Homo sapiens: one gene and its partner. The protein of the gene in region 1 purifies or fractionates together with the protein of each later gene. This does not show direct contact. Each region holds a gene or a part of one and is shown in the gene's direction. Other genes may lie near its edges.

Region 1 (2,772 bases):
GGGCAGGAATCAGTGCCACCAGGTCTTGGTATCTCCTCTGAGGTGGGGCTTAGGTATGGGGATAAGCAGGGAAAGGATGTGTGGGGGGCATGAACTTGGGGTCCTAGGAGAGAATCTGATCATGGAAAGATCTATCCCCATCATGGCAGGGCTGTGTGACCTTTGAGGACGTGGCCATTTACTTCTCCCAGGAAGAATGGGGGCTCCTTGATGAGGCTCAGAGGCTCCTGTACCGCGATGTGATGCTGGAGAACTTTGCACTTATAACTGCGCTGGGTAAGGCCCTCACACCCACTCTCGTGTCCTGGTCTTCGTCTATCCTCTTTTTCCTCAGAGGCAGCTCTGCCGGACCGTGGGCTTTGCTGACTTCCCCACTGTCTTGGCGTATGTGCTGTGGTGTAAGGAATGAAATCATTGCACTCCTTAATCAGCCCTGACATTTGCTGTCCCAAAATGCACAGGGATGGGTCTGGCTGTTAGGTGTCTTGAGTCAGCCTAATGCATCTCCGTTTACTTCTTCACTTCCTCTTTGGGTGGCTGTGTCCATATTCATGGTACTTTGTGTCTCAAATTCTGCCTCCTAGATGACATTTCCTTTGACTACCTGTGTTAGGAATTTGCAGAATTTTCCTCATCAGTATTTACATGGACCATGAGCTGTGGTTGCCAGAACCTCCTTCAAGGATCTGTGTGATATTAATTTTCTTTCTTGTGTTCTCAAGGCTGCTGACTTGCTCTGGGCCACTGCAGGATACTCACCTGTCCCAGCTTTCCCTTAGGACTTGCTTCATTCAGGTCCCAAGTAGTGGCACATCTAGAGGTGGTGGGAAAGCCCTGGTTGTTGGAAAGGGTGAAGATGGGAATATGGCTTCAGAGGAAGCCTGGCCTCAGTCAGTGGCACCTGGGTGAGGACATGGCATCCAGCCTGTTTTCTAATCTTACCAGGAATTTGCCCTGTGTCATCCAGAGTTTGGTGCTAATGCCACTGGACACATCTCATTTCTATGTTTTCTTCCTCTTCCTTGACACTTTGCTGGCTTATTGCTTCATCTGGGACATCCGGCCTCGTGCTGCCCCCATCTTCCTGCCCTCCATGTGTCACCAGTTTCTCTGCACTGCCCCCCAGCATGTTTTCCAACACTGACCCACTCACGATATGTTGTGAGTTGTGCACATGCCAATTAAATATTTCTTGAACACAAGATCGCAATTGGAATCTCCCACTCACTTCCAATTGCATTATCTTGGGCCCGAATAATGCCAGCTTTCAGCACAGCATACACGTGCCACCAGCTGACAAGATCTTGCCACAGGATTTGGCAAAAGAATAGATTGGAGACCCTGCCTCTCCTTGTGTACTGTACCCCATTCTTACGTCCTGTGTTTGGTGAGGCCTCCCCATTTTGTGATCTTTAGAGGCCCACTACTGCCAAGCAGCCTCTTTCTTATCCTGCTTTCAGTTCCTCAATATTGCTTCAAAGCAATACTGTGAATTCATTCCTTGATGTATATGTGAAGGTGCTTCCCATTTCCTGTTATGTACCCACAGGATTTTAATTAATGGAGGTAGTAGAGTGCCAATACAGAGAGGTTAATGTCAGTGACATAGGAATTTATCACCTGCAGTAGCAAGAGCATGTGAACACCATGCCATGCAGGGCCACATGAGGAAGTGCTCAGTGGTCAGAAGGTAGAAGCAAGAGAGGAGGGAAAATATTAAGCCACAGCCTTTATTGGGGTTTCTGCAGGTAACACAAGACATAATAAACAGTTTAGGATTGGGTAATTTGAGTAGTTTGCTTTGGGGCAAAGGGGCTCACTAGGCGTAGTTGTCTCCTGCCTGACCTTGGGATGACTAGAGCAGAGGAATATTAGCTCCTGAAGCATCCAAGTCACATAGAAAATGTGATTGGGAGTATGGGCTCTGGATTGATGGTGTATTTGTTATGCTCCTTGCTGAGCCCTTTGCTATCTCTTTAAGAGTTGGCTCACTCTGGAAGCACCATTCTCTCCCCAGCCAGCAATGTTTTTTATTTTGTTTTGTTTTGTTTTGTTTTTGAGACAGTTTCGCTTTGTCTCCCAGGCTGGAGTGCAGTGGTGCGATCTGGGCTCACTGCAACCTCTGCCTCCCGGATTCAAGCAATTCTTGTGCCTCAGCCTCTTGAGTAGCACCCACCACCACGCCTGGATAATTTTTTGTATTTTTAGTAGAGCCAGGGTTTCACCATATTGCCCAGACTGGTCTCAAACTCCTGAGCTCAGGCCAGCAAAGTTTTTAAGATGTCAGAACACCAATTATTCAGAAAATAGTTTTTTAAATGACTAATACACTCCCATCATAGTCAACGTGCATTTCATCAGTGTTTCTCTGCTTTCAGTTTGTTGGCATGGGATGGAGGATGAAGAGACACCTGAGCAAAGTGTTTCTGTAGAAGGAGTACCTCAGGTCAGGACTCCAGAGGCCAGTCCATCCACCCAGAAGATTCAATCCTGTGACATGTGTGTCCCATTCCTGACCGACATTTTGCACCTGACCGATTTGCCTGGGCAGGAACTATACTTGACTGGGGCATGTGCGGTCTTTCACCAGGACCAGAAGCATCATAGTGCAGAGAAACCCTTGGAAAGTGACATGGACAAGGCCTCATTTGTGCAGTGCTGCCTGTTCCATGAGTCAGGAATGCCTTTCACCAGCAGTGAGGTTGGGAAGGACTTCCTAGCCCCATTGGGCATTCTTCAGCCGCAAGCTATTGCTAACTATGAGAAGCCAAA
Region 2 (3,600 bases), on another chromosome or scaffold:
AAAAGACAATATAGAGCCAATAAATAGCTTATGTTATTTTAATATACATTCCTCTGGCCAGGCCAGCCAAGGTGGGAGGCTCCCTTCCGGCCAGGAGTTCAAGACCAGGCTGGGCAACACAGCAAGACTCTGTCTCTATTTGTAAAATTCTTGGTAAACAATTTAGAAACTGCCCCTTCTTTTCCTTTAAAAACCCATTTGTAACTGCTGCTAATTAGAGTGTATATTAAGGCAACTTGCATCTCCAAGGTTGCAGTTCGCAAACTTGGCCCAAATAAACTGTATTTTTTTTTAGTTTTTTATTTTTTGTGAGACGGAATCTCCCTCTGTCACCCAGGCTGGAGTGCAGTGGCACAATCTCGGCTCACTGCAACCTCCACCTCCCGGATTCAAGCGATTCTTGTGCCTCAGCCTCCCGAGTAGCTGGGATTACAGGCACCCATCACCATGTCCGGCTAATTTTATTCATTTTTTATTTTTTGTAGAAACGGGGGCAGGACGGGTCTCACCACGTTGCCCAGGCTGGTTGCAAACTCCTGACCTCAAGCAATCCTCCGGCGGAGGCCTCCCAAAGCACTGGAATTACAGGCCTGAGGCACTGCGCCCAGCCCAACCTCTCCACCTATATTAATTTTACCTCTGCTTCTTCTTTTCTTTTCTTTTCTTTTTTTTTTTAAGACGGAGTCTCGCCCAGGCTGCAGTGCGATCTCGGCTAACTGCAACCTCTGCCTCCCGGGTTCAAGCAATTCCCCAGCCTCAGCCTCCCGAGTAGCTGGGATTACAGGCACGCCCACCATACCCGGATAGTTTTTGTATTTTTAGTAGAGACGGGATTTCACCATGTTGGCCAGGTTGGTCTCCAACTCCTGACTTCAGGTGATCTGCCCGCCTCTGCCTCCGAAGTGATGGGATTACAGACGTGAGCCACAGAAACCCACTCACTTTTTCCTTTCAGATCACAAAAGTGATCGAATCCCGCCACTTCCCGGGTGCTGGGTGGGAAGGTGGGGTGATTGCTGTGCTGCTGTGACTTGGGTAGATGCCGTGAAGGCCTCTCAAAGGCGGCCATGTTTGCAAAGATCTGAATAAGGCACCTCCAGAGGAACCGGTCTGGGGCAACTGGGGAGGAGGCAGCGGCACAAGTTCGTGGTCAAGCCACTGCAAGGCTGGGAGCTTACTTACAAAGCAATGTTCCTCCACCTATAAAGACGCAGTAGCTGCTCCATCCCCGGTCAGAGGACCCCCGGAAACGTCTCAGCCCACGCACTGCCCTCTGACCCCACTGCCTTCCCGCCAGTCCTGCATCCAGTCAGAGGGCCCTCTCTGAGCCTGCTGCCTTCCCGCCAATCCTGCATCCAATCAGAGGGCGTCCCCACTACGTGGTTTGCACAACGGCCAATCAAAACTAGGATCCGAGCCTTGGCCCGCCTCCCAGGACGTCCGGACCAATGGTGGCCTGGCACCAGCAGGCCAATCCCAGACAGCGCACGGCGGGAGGCTGTCGTTGGGCGTGCGCAGCTGCAGCGGCGGTTGAGGTCAAGTAGTAGCGTTGGGCTGCGGCAGCGGAGGAGCTCAACATGGTAAGGCCAGGTCACTCCCACCCCGCAGACGCCCAGGCTGGAGGGTGGACGAAGTTGGCCTCCTGAGGTGGCTGGATGGAGGGATGCTGTTGCGGGCCAGGGTGCAGAAAGGAGGTCAGAGAAGGATGCGGGGCCCAGGGCGGGACACGAGGACACGGCATCGTCTGCTGGGTCTGCGGGCTCCAGGGCAGGGATGGCAGCTTTTGTTTTAGACGAAGCTGCCGGCCTTGAGTCAGTGGACGGGGAGCATTGACCGTGTCCTGTCCCCCAGAGAGCAAACAGTGGTGCCGCCTCCTGAAGACAGAAGGGCGCTGCTCCCGCTTTCCGGTCTCCAAATGTCTCTGTCCTATTGGAAACCACTGAGGAGCCCCAGGAGCCTTGTTGATGGAGGCAAGGGCTGTGGACATTGGTCAGATCAGGAATTAAAGCTCAGACGGGAGTTGGAGGCGGGGAATCCCCTGAGGTCAGGGGCTCCTCACTAGCCTGGCCAATATGGCGAAATCCCTTCTCTACTAAAAATAGAAAAATTCCCGGGGTGGAGGCGTGGATCTGTGGTTCCAGCTACTCGGGAGGCTGAGGTGGGAGGGTCAGCTGAGCCCAGGACTTCGAGGCCGCAGTGAGTCATGATGGTGCCACTGCACTCCAGCTTGTGCGACAGAGAGAGACCCTGCCTCAAAAAAAAAAAAAAGCAACCAACGCATTCACATAAAGAATAGATTTCTAAGTCCCAAGTCTGAATAGCAGTGGCCGTGGTTTGTCAAGTATCTTTTTTTTTTTTTTTTTGAAACGGCTCAACAACAGCTCTGTTGCCCAGGCTGGAGCACAGTTGCACGATCACGGCTCCCTGCAGCCTTGAACCCCTGGGCTCCAGCAATCCTCCTGCCTCAGCCTCCTGAGTAGCTGGGACTACAGGTGTGTGCTGCCACAGCTGGCTAATGTTTAAATTTTTCGGCCGGGCGCTGTGGCTCACGCCTGTAATCCCAGCACTTTGGGAGGCCAAGGCGGGCATATCAAAAGGTCAGGAGATCGAGACCATCCTGGCTAACACGGTGAAACCCCATCTCTACTAAAAATACAAAAAATTAGTTGGGCATAGTGGCCTGTAGTCCCAGCTACGTGGGAGACTGAGGCAGGAGAATTGCTTGAACCCGGGAGGCAGAGGCTGCAGTGAGCTGAGATTGTGCCACTGCATTCCAGCCTGGGTGACAGAGCAAGACTCTGTTTAAAAAAAAAAAATTTTTTTTCATAGTTGCCCAGGCTGGTCTCAAACTGGTCCCAAGCGATCTCAGCTCAGCCTCCCAAAGTGCTGGAATTACAGGCATGAGCCACCACATCCGGCTTGTCAGGGCTTAAAGAAACCACCAAGGACAGTGCAGTGTCCCAGCACTGATGACATCTGGGAGCCATTACACTCCTAGGCTTCAAGGGGTAGAGGGGAGGGAGTGCTTACGAAAAATTGAGAGGGTAACTTTATGAAGAGGGCCACCTGCCAAAAGTGTGGCCTTGATGGAGGGATTTGTATCGCCCATGAAAGGTGAGCAGGAAGGGGCCAAGGGGAGAGTACCCTGACGCCACTCTCCTCCAGCCTCCTGGTCTCCTGCGGCTGCCTGTCATTGAACAAACCAGCACGAAGCCAGAGAGCAAGGAAGGCCTCTGATGCTGTCCTCATGGGTCAGCCTCGGAGAGCACAGGGCGGGTGGTGAATGATGGAGGGTAGATCTGGGGGTGCAGAGAGAGGACACATACTGAACACCTGGGCTTGGACCACAGTGACCTGGGACCTACTCTCTATTTCCTTACCCAACCCCATTACCTTATCCTTTGGTAGGACATAATCAAAAACTGCTATGTATTCTTCAGAGAATTACTGTGACTGGCTATAATGTGGGTTTGATTACTGACATTACATGGCTTCCAAGTTTTAAAATAATCTAATTTTTGTGTAGTGGCAAACATTAGGTTCTAGGGCTACCTCTGGAACTTAGCAGCTGGGATGGTGTAGAGCAAGTAAGTTTTCACA

What was found.
Region 2: the proteins of ZNF416 (region 1) and TUBA3C purify together in Homo sapiens (affinity purification with mass spectrometry, with the first as the bait; 2 studies listed by BioGRID). This does not show direct contact.

What each region holds. Positions count from the first base shown.
Region 1 is NC_000019.10:57,573,308-57,576,079, reverse strand, and holds part of ZNF416 (zinc finger protein 416), read left to right. Parts: intron 1-149; coding exon 150-276; intron 277-2,378; coding exon 2,379-2,772. UniProt on the Homo sapiens protein: May be involved in transcriptional regulation.
Region 2 is NC_000013.11:19,179,725-19,183,324, reverse strand, and holds the start of TUBA3C (tubulin alpha-3C chain), read left to right. Parts: upstream 1-1,500; 5' UTR 1,501-1,577; coding exon 1,578-1,580; intron 1,581-3,600. UniProt on the Homo sapiens protein: Tubulin is the major constituent of microtubules, a cylinder consisting of laterally associated linear protofilaments composed of alpha- and beta-tubulin heterodimers.